Homo sapiens: one gene and its partners. The protein of the gene in region 2 interacts with the protein of the main gene of each other region in a pairwise test. Each region holds a gene or a part of one and is shown on either strand. Other genes may lie near its edges.

Region 1 (3,731 bases), on a different chromosome or scaffold from region 2:
GGATTACAGGCCTGAGCCACTGCACCCGGTAGGTTCTGGGGTTCTACTGTAATGAGATTTGGGTGAAAAACTAAGGCAGAAGGGAGGATGAGGAGAGGCTGGCCCATGGGTACAAAGTTACAGTTAGGAAGAAGAAATTGGGTGTTCCATTGCACAGGAGGGCAATGATAGTTGACAGTAAAATATCATGGCCAGGCATGGTGGCTCATGCCTGTCATCCCAGCACTTTGGGAGGCCAAGTCGGGCAGATCACTTGAGGTCAGGAGTTTGACAGCAGCCTGGCCAACATGGTGAAACCCTGTCTCTACTAAAAATACAAAAATTAGACGGGTGTGGTGGTGGGCGCCCATAATGCCAGCTACTCAGGAGGCTGAGGCAGGAGAATCGCCGGAACCTGGGAGCTGGAGGTTGCAGTGAGTCAAGATGGCGCCGCTGCACTCCAGCCTGGGCGACAGACCAGGACCCTGTCTCAAAATAGTAAATAAAAATAATTTTTAAAAGATGCTGCTAGGGTAAGCGTCCTGGACTGGTGACTGATGATGAGACTCTGGACTGAGGGGTCTCCCATGGTGCCAGTCTCCCTGTGCCACTTCCTGGCAAATGACCAGGCTCCCAAGTCAGAGCCCTGCTGGCCAAGGAATTGGCTTCAGGTGGGAGCCCCAGGAACCCTGGTGAGTGAAAGATCCAGAACCCAGAGCCCCAGCATGTCCTTTCCGAATGGCTCAAAGTATCCCGCCGGACATTTCAGGCCTGTAGTCCCTCCAAGCAGCCCAAGGAGCAGCACCTGAATCGTGCCCGCCAGATACCAGGCATGGCCATCCACAGTCTCACCTGGAACACACAGCCCCTCCAGCTGCTCCTGCCTCTCAGAGGCTTCCCTGGCCGTGAGCAGTCACTCCACCAGGAGCGAACCTGACCTTGGCACTCCAGGGTCCCTGCAAACCCGCCACATTAGAGCACCTCTTGGCACCGCCATGCAGGCAGCCCTGGTTCATCCACAGCTGACCCAGAGCAGGCCTCTGCCCGCCTTCCCCGCATGGCCAGCTCAGATCCCTGGGAAAGGCTGGGCTCTCCCCACCTGCAGAGGAGCCCCCTGCCTTCCAGGAACCTCTGCAGTGGAGCTGCCACTGCTCCAAGTAAGGCAGACAGTGGGAAAGGGGAGTCCAGAGTCCTGGCCCCAAGAGACCTAAGCTGCCTTTGAGAAGCTGCACCCACAGTGAGAAGCCCACGCCACTCCTGAGAAGCGGGAGATCCAGGGAAGTGGGACCTTTTTTTTTTTCTTTTTTTCTTGAGACAGGGTCTCGTTCTGTTGCCCAGGCTGGAGTGCAGAGGTGCAATCTCGGCTCATTGCAGCCTCCATCTCCTGGATTCAAGCGATCCTCCCACCTCAGCCTCCCCAGAAGCTGGGACTACAGGTGTGCAACACCATGTCCAACTAATTTTTGTATTTTTAGTAGAGACGGGGTTTCACCATGTTGGCCAGGCTGGTCTCGAACTCCCAACCTCAACTGATCCGCCTGCCTCCACCTCCCAAAGAACTGGGATTTTAGGCATGAGCCACCGCGCCCGGCCCCTTTTTTCTTTTTTCCTATCAGAACCTCAAATGACTGGCAAGGAAGGGGGAGAAGGTTATTTGGTGACAGGAACAATGGGCCAAGGGTGGGGACTGTATGAAGTTTGAGGAGAGGCAGATGCTCCTAGCCTCGGAAGAGGTGGGGGATTCCAGCAGGGCTTCTGGGAGTGGTTGGAGGCAGGCTGTCACTAGCCCAGGCGCTCAGCAGCCCCACTCCTGGCCATCCGCATCCCCAACGGTGGCCCCCAGACCCAAGCCACAGAGCCTCCCCTAGAGCGGAAGCAGAAGGGGCCCCACCAGGAAGCTGTGTGCTCACAGGGAGGTGTTGCAAGAAGCTCAGGGAGAAAGCCCAGGAGAAGCAGAGGGGGCCTCTCTGCCCCAGGCCCTCTGAGGCTGTCAGCGAGAGCAGGAGCACCTTAGAAGCTCAAGCTCTGGCCCCCGCTGAAAGCCCTGCCACAGATCCAGCTCGTGGACCAGCTGTGCAAGCCAGGGCAAGCCCCATCCCAGAGCCTCAACCTTGCGTACCTATTTTTTTTTCTTTTTTTTTTTTTGAGATGGAGTCTCACTCTGTCACCCAGGCTGGAGTGCAATGGCAGGATCTCAGCTTACTGCAACCCCTGCCTCCCAGGTTCAAGCGATTCTCCTGCCTCAGCCTCCCAAGTAGCTGGGATTACAGGCGCCTGCTACCACACCCAGCTAATTTTTTGTATTTTTAGTAGAGACAGGTTTTCACTATGTTGGCCAGGCTGGTCTTGAACTCTTGACATCAGGCAATCCACCCGCCTTGGCCTCCCAAAGTGCTGGGATTACAGGCGTGAGCCACTGCGCCTGGCCTTTTTTTTTTTTTTCAACTGAGACAGACACAGAGTCTCACTCTGTCACCCAGGCTGGAGTGCAGCGGCGCGATGTCAGCTCACTGCAACCTCCACCTCCCGGGTTCAAGGAATTCTCCCACCTCAGCCTTCCGAATAGCTGGGATGACAGGTGCATGCCACCATGCCCGACTCATTTTTTTTTTTGAGATTGAGTCTCACTCTGTCGCCCAAGCTGGAGTCCAATGGCGTGATCTTGGCTCACTGCAACCCTTCCTTCCCAGGTTCACGCGATTCTCCTGCCTCAGCTTCTCTAGTAGCTGGGACTACAGGCACGCACCACCACACCTGGCGAATTTTTGTATTTTTAGTAGAGATGGGGTTTCTCCATGTTGTTCAGGCTGGTCTCGAACTCCTGACCTCAGGTGATCCACCCGCCTCGGCCTCCCAAAGTGCTGGGATTACAGGCGTGAGCCACCACGCCCGGCCCCAGCTAGTTTTTTTATTTTTAGTAGAGATGGGTTTTTGCCATGCGGGCCAGGCTGGTCTGGAACTCCTGACCTCAAGTGATCCGCCCACCGGACCTCCCAAACTGCTGGGATGACAGGTGTGAGCTGCCACGCCGGGCCAGCCTTGTGCATCTGTAAAATGGGGGTGCATTGCCTTACTGCCCTGTGGGGATTTGGGAGTGGAGGGTACGGATTTAGGGACAGGCAGGCAAGGTGCTTGCCTGGAAGCTGCTTGTGTTTTCATGAAGGCATTAACTTTGGAGTGGAGGGTACGGATTTAAGGACGGATTTAAGGACAGATTTAGGGACATGCAGGGAGTGGAGCGTACAGATTTAGGGACAGGCAGGCAAGGTGCTTCCCTGGAAGCTGCTTGTGTTTTCATGAAGGCATTAACTTTGGAGTGGAGGGTACGGATTTAAGGACAGATTTAGGGACATGCAGGGAGTGGAGGGTACAGATTTAGGGACAGGCAGGCAAGGTGCTTGCCTGGAAGCTGCTTGTGTTTTCATGAAGGCATTAACTGTGGAGCTGGGCAGGAGGTGCGGGCCTGCTCCCTATTCACCCAGCACAAACTTCTAAGAAACCTTTGGCAGCCTCCCTCCCCTGCCACTGCCACACCTGCCTGCAGGCCACACCTCCCCCTGAGTTTCAGGCCCAAGTTCTGCCTGGACATCCCCTCAGCTACCTTGAACACAACAGGTCTAAGTAAATCAGGCTGGGCGTGGTGGCTCACGCCTGAAATCTCAGCACTTTGGTAGGCTGAGGTGGGCGGATCACGAGGTCAGGAGTTCAAGGCCAGCCTGGCCAATGTAGTGAAACCCCAGCTCTACTAAAAA
Region 2 (3,731 bases):
CCCAAATAGTTTACAATGAATTAGAACTCTTTTGATAATGTCTCAAAAACATTAAATTAAATATGTTCAAAAGCTCTATGAGTCATAGCTGTAATTCAAGGCTTCCAAATGAGATTTTTATGCAGAAAAACACGACCCAAAGGATGAACAACTTTAAAAAAGACATTATCGAATTTAAATTTATTTTAAGACAAGGTTCTAACTTGACATTTAAAGTGCAAGCAAGTACTGTGGTAAGCAGTGTTACAAACTAAAAATTCAATTTAAAATGTTCGCATCCTGTTCAAAACCTTCTAAATCTTTGAACCACAGCAGCAAGAATACAACACGGAGTGCCAGGCTGCCCCAAAGTCAGTCACCCTTTTCTACATGTGCTAATAAGTTTGATTTTGGAAGGACAATGTGTACATTCCCCAGACAGGCAGAGTGTGTGTGAAACACGCTAGTCCATGCTGTGCTACTCAGTGAGCGTCAGTGGGGACAGGACAAGCTGAAAATGGCTCTCATCTGTCTTCTGTGCTCCAGACAGAGCTTTAACTCCTTCAGAGCCTTGATGAGAAGGGGATGGGATTGGAAATCAAAACTGGAAAGTAGCTCAACACATTTTTATCTTGCCTATGTTTTACATAAAACGTGCACACAACTATATAGAAGTACCTTAGGAAGAGTTGTTTCACATGACGAGAAAAAAGTTAAAAACAATCTGAATGCCCCTAATCATATAAAACACTCTGAGAGGAAATTTCTAAAAGAACCACAATAATAATAATAATAATAATAATAATAATAATAGTGGTTTTTGTTTTAAATGCAAGGACACTTTAAGATCTTACCTTAAAAATACACTGTATATATAAACTATAGTCTCTCCGTGTTTGCAAAACCTTAAGTAAATGTACATATATTCATTATCATATTCTAGGCGTTCATTATAGTCCTTTTTCTCAGTACTGCAGAGTGTTAAAAAAAAAAAAAATCTGAATGTCCCCTAAGGAGTTAAACAGGAATAGTATATTTTCATGCATCTCCTGCTTTGACAGATGAAAAATGTCAACTGTCCTGTTTTTATTTTCAAGCTTTTGCACTATTCATCTGGTTCATTAGTGCATCTCGATGCTGCCCCTGACAGCTGCTCGCCCTCTCCTCCCAGCAGCTGAATTTTTCAGGCTAATTTGATCCTCCACACTGAGACGATCGCTAGAATGATTGACTTACTCCCTGACCTCCAGGGTCTGACTTTCCTGATTAGTATTCTGGGGGTGTCGGAGGGACGAAAGCCCACTGTCTGTCTTCGGGGCTGGTGGCAGCTCTCTTTTTTTTTGAACTGTAAGCCACCAACCTACAACCCTGTAAGGATGCAATTGCTGCGCTGAACAATAAAGGAAATGTGTAAAACCTACTTTTCCATGTAAAGGTCCGTGTAGCAAAAGCACAGCATCTTGATTTTAATTAGTAAAGTCTACTTTGTTGCATATCAATTAAAACTGTACTGCTAGTTTTTTTTTTTTTTTGAGGTTTCAGGAATATTTGAAAGTCTAATTTTCTGAGTTTAAAATACATTTTCAAAAAAGGCTTCCTACGTCTTCATTGTTAATAGTAATTTTTTAGTGGGTACAATACAAAATACGTGATGTTATGACCAATTTTTAAAAGCCAAACTGTTAGCTATTTCTATTAACAGTACATTGAAACACAACTGAAAGGAAATAGAACATAAATTTAAATTAAAGCTTTAGAAAAATTCTAGTTCTTCTAAAAGATTTGCATGGAGAAATCAAGAAAATGCGTTGAGATGAAAACTAACATTAGCATGATAATACTTTAACTCAAAATCATCCACAATACATATAACTCATGGATGTAGAAATGTCCAAAGATGTTATTTTTATTTTTGTGGCATTTTAAGTCCATACAAAAATGGGACACCGTCTCTCAAAGGCAAATTCAAAATGTGATAAATTATTTCAGTTTTGACATGAGTATGCTAAATCTAAAAGAATTATGCAAACTTCCTCTCAAAAACCACTTACTACCTCAACAGAACTTTTTCTTTTTTATTGCTAAATTTAATCTAGTTATTGGAAACCAATTTGCTGTTTACTTTTAGGGATTTGAAGAGAATATGTTGCTTTGATAATATTAGACTATGGCCTAAAGGAATCTAAGGTTAACTAAACAAATATAAAATATTTTAAATGTACAGAGTGACTAACTTTTAAACATTATAGTAACAATATAAACAATCCAGTTCTTTTTAGGATTGTACCAAATTATTAACAAAATATAACACAGTGAGCGTAATTTCTTGTAATCTCGTGCACATATAAAAACATGTTTTGTTACATTACTGACTCATAATTTTTCATAACAAAAATTATCCAAAGTATGAGTTTATTTAAGAATATTTAAAAATCCTTTCATTTTAAGTAGTTGTTAGTCACTTTAGTAGGAAGGACAAAACAAATAATTTCAGGTTCCTTAAATTAAGGAAATTTGAATCTGCAATGAATAAAATAATAAAAGATCATGACATACATTTTTAAAGAGTCAAAAAACACCTCCTAATGCTCTACTTCCAAGTAATGGTGGTACAATTAAAATAGATGATTTCATCATATATTTCATTTAATTCTGGAGGACAAGAGACAGGAAATATATATAGTAGGAAATGCATTGGTTTCTATTTATCCTCTTTAGACTTCTCTCATATACACAGAGATATGAAAATGATTCCTACACAGGGATATGAAAATGCTTCCATGTATTACATTTCCTCACTTTATTAAAACCTACTTAGATATAGACTAATTTTTAATTAACAGCTTTGACTCGAAGCCTATATTCCTAGGAAAATTATCATTCAATTAAAAAAACAAAATTACAGAAGTCACTAGCTTGAGATACTTTTATACCAACACAGATGTAAAATGTGTTACTAACATGCTTTCTTTTATCCACCCAAATTATTACAGTGCAACATTTCTAGAGGACCTACCTACATGATTCCATCTTCCTTTGATAAATGATCACCAGTAGAACAAAAGAGAGAGTATTTCACTGAGCTTTACCAATACAAATTGTTACTCATGGAAACTAAATTGATAACCTAGAAGAACTATCTGTTTGCATACTATCCTTAATGCTAAATTACACCTGTGTAAAAGTGAAATAAAATATTGATAAAAATATTTACTATACTTTCATATATTAAATCCAATCCATTATGCCACTCCTGTAATGCATGGATCAAGATTTACAGATGTTCAAACGTATATTTTTACAAATGCAAGATATAGAGAAAGGCGTTATATTAACATAAAAGTTAATGCTTTAAAAATAAACTTCTCATCAAAAGAACACAATTTAAAAATATATTAGATGTGTAGGAATGTATAGTTATTAAATTCCATTATACAAAGTTATTAACCCAACGAAAATTCTTCACAATTAAAAAGGTGATTCTTAAACATCCAGAAAAAAGTAAGTATATACTATAAGGATAGAGGAAATATACTAAGTAAAACTGCATCAATATTTGGAATTTATCAACATTACCTACCTCATATAGTAGACAGCCAAGAGACCAGATGTCAGATTTGAAGTTGTATCCATTTTCATGTATTCTCTCTGGAGACATGTAATAAGGCGTACCAACTGCAAAAAAACAAACCAAATAAAGTAAGAGGTATATAAAAATAAAGATACAGCTGTGGTCAGAAACTACATACAAA
Region 3 (2,760 bases), on a different chromosome or scaffold from region 2:
TCAATGCTGATGAATTTGAAGACATGGTGGCTGAAAAGCGGCTCATCCCAGATGGCTGTGGGGTCAAGTACATCCCCAGTCGTGGCCCTCTGGACAAGTGGCGGGCCCTGCACTCATGAGGGCTTCCAATGTGCTGCCCCCCTCTTAATACTCACCAATAAATTCTACTTCCTGTCCACCTATGTCTTTGTATCTACATTCTTGACGGGGAAGGAACTTCCTCTGGGAACCTTTGGGTCATTGCCCTTTCACTTCAGAAACAGGTTGACAACTCAGCCCTGCTCATGAGGCAGCAAACCCTGCAAAGGGCTGGGACTGGTGGCCTTATGTCAGTTGTCTACTCTGGAGCTTGACTTGGACCTCCCCAGGTCCTAGGCAGTAGGTTGAAAAACACTGAAGTGCTTTTCATGAAGCACAGCTGCAGCAAAGCCTTGCAATCCCAGGCTGGGGTCAGCCTACAGTTGTGTTGCTTATTACAACACATGCGGACCAAGAGGGGCTTGTGGGCTAGAGGCTGACCAGCAGCGTTTATTTAGCAAGGGTAGGTGTGCATCACATTGGGCTTGTTCTCACCCATCTGGTTTGGCCATTCCTCCTTGGTGGGAATCATCCAGGTACTGCTGAGGTCACCTGCGATTTGCCCCATTTCCTATCTCTAGCAACCTCCTGGGCCCCATGCCCCCACCCCTTCTAGAACCTGCATTCCCAGGGCCTTCACCACCTGACCAAAGGTCTAGGCTAACCTTTGGTCATTTGTAACAAGACCTCGGAACAGACACGTGTGTGGCATGGTTTGGCCTGGGGATCTTAGATGTCTGACCTGAACTATTGTAGAACAGCGCTGGCTTTTGGGGGAGCAGCAAAAATGAGAGGAGTGCTAGGTGGGTGGCCTGAGCATCTGTATCCAGGGACAGGACTCCAAAGGCTTTTGGTCCCAGAGCTGGGGTATGTTGGCCCCAGCCCCCAGCCTGTGGCTCCCAAAAGGCCTCTGGTTTTTTGTAATCTCAGTTTACAGCCATTTCTTAGGTTTTTAATTACCTTTATTTTATTTTGCCAAACATACCTGGGAATACCTTTTATTTTTTTTTTACCTTGGGGTGATGGTTCCAAACCATAAATGTGATTATAGTTAACACATGACCCTTCTAGCGTCCCAGCCAGTGTTTTTCCTGACCTCTCTTCTTTGGAGAGGAGGATGGAAGGGAGGGGTCCGGCATGCTGCTGGCATTTTGCTGTGTCCTGCAGCCCCTTTCCGGGACACCTGGGTTCACACAGCTTTTTAGCTTACATAACTGGTGCAGATTTTCTGTGTGGAGATGTTGCCTTGACCAGCCTTGGCTGGACTTTACCAGGCATGCAGAAGCCTGTACCAACACAGACTACAGCACCCAGGAGGTGCGAGTGTGGCTGCTCAGCGGTTATAACAGGCCTGACTGCATTGTTCACCGGATTATAATGAGCCAAAATGTTTCCCGGTGTTTGCTGGTTTCAGGGAAGGAGTTTGATATAGCAGATTAACCACCCTCCTTGTAGCTATTGGGGCTTAATGGTTTCCTGGTGATTCTTACCAATCCACAATAAACATGGCCCATTGGCATATCTGCTGCACAAGTGTCCTATCTCACCAATCTGGGTTTTTGTTCTCAGTAACTTTCCTTCTTGTCATACAACATCTTCATTCCTCTTTCTGAACCCTCCCTTCCCCTACCCCAACCCAGAGCCCACTTTGTCTCCACTCCTGATACTACACTACCTGGCAGGTGGCATGAGTGCAGGGCCCCTGGCTTCCTCTCCTAATCTAGGCACAAGCCCAACCAAAGAACAAGAGCCAAATCAAACAAGGCAGGCAGGGGTGGACTACAGTCACAGGGCAACTATAGTTGAAGCCCCCCAGCCCCAGGGCTGGATGGACGGGGGAGGCTGGGGTTTAAGTCCCAAAAGGCAGCAGGCCCTGGGGGGGTAGGGGGACGCTCAGGCAGCAGGGCACAGCTGAGGGGACAGGAGTGATAGCAGCAACAGAACAGTGAGGCTGAGAGGCTGGACGCTGTGCGCCTGGCTCAGCTTCAGCTCCACCTCCACGGGGTAGTGGTCACTGATGTTGAGGGCCTGGGAATGGGTGGTGGGGCAGTGTCAGTGCCCGGGGCCGAGGGGCTTCCCTGTGACCCTGCTGCTGCCCTCCCTCCTCATGCCAGCCCCATCCCTTCACCTCCTCCTCGGTGAGCTGGAAGCTCGTGGGGAAGTCAAAGGCAGCCGCAGTGTGCAGCAGACTCCGGCAGCGCTCCCCGTGCAGCACGACGCGGTCATAGGTGCAGTGGGTGCTGGCCCGCACTGTGGTGTCCTCCCCATCGGCAATCACCCAGTGGAAGCCTGGCTCAGTCCGCAGCTCCAGCTTGTCCAGGCGCTTTTTGGTCAGTGAAGCGCAGTCAGCATTGAAGTCCCCAAGCAGGATCACGTCCTAGAGACACAGCAGCCATCAGGCTGGCCGCTGGGCCACCCTATCCTTGTCCCTCCTGTACAAACTGCCCAGGCCTACCTTGCTCTGCCAGTGCTGGGAGACCTCCAGAAACACATCGTAGAGGGCGTTCAGCTCCTTCTCTACGGCCTTAGGAGTGGTGTGCAGCGGGACCAACACCAGGCTGGGAAGGACTGCAAGGCCCAGGGACCGAGGGCTGCCATCCACTCCTGGACCTTCTCCCCCTAGCCCGTCTGGGTGAGGAAGCCCCCAGTGGAGCCAGCCAGAACTCCCCTTCTGCTCCCACA

Evidence for each region.
Region 1: the proteins of NEK7 (region 2) and PRAM1 interact in binary tests that used the Homo sapiens proteins (3 or more experiments, as listed by UniProt).
Region 3: the proteins of NEK7 (region 2) and DNASE1L1 interact in binary tests that used the Homo sapiens proteins (3 or more experiments, as listed by UniProt).

Annotation. Positions count from the first base shown.
Region 1 is NC_000019.10:8,492,526-8,496,256, forward strand, and holds part of PRAM1 (PML-RARA-regulated adapter molecule 1), read right to left. Parts: intron 1-3,731. UniProt on the Homo sapiens protein: May be involved in myeloid differentiation. May be involved in integrin signaling in neutrophils. Binds to PtdIns(4)P.
Region 2 is NC_000001.11:198,292,868-198,296,598, reverse strand, and holds part of NEK7 (serine/threonine-protein kinase Nek7), read right to left. Parts: exon of another isoform or gene 3,661-3,731; intron 3,655-3,660; coding exon 3,560-3,654; intron 1-3,559. UniProt on the Homo sapiens protein: Protein kinase which plays an important role in mitotic cell cycle progression. Required for microtubule nucleation activity of the centrosome, robust mitotic spindle formation and cytokinesis.
Region 3 is NC_000023.11:154,400,736-154,403,495, forward strand, and holds the end of DNASE1L1 (deoxyribonuclease-1-like 1 precursor), read right to left. Parts: intron 2,647-2,760; coding exon 2,534-2,646; intron 2,456-2,533; coding exon 2,207-2,455; intron 2,107-2,206; coding exon 1,972-2,106; 3' UTR 501-1,971; downstream 1-500. Other genes in the region: RPL10 (large ribosomal subunit protein uL16), read left to right, coding at 1-288.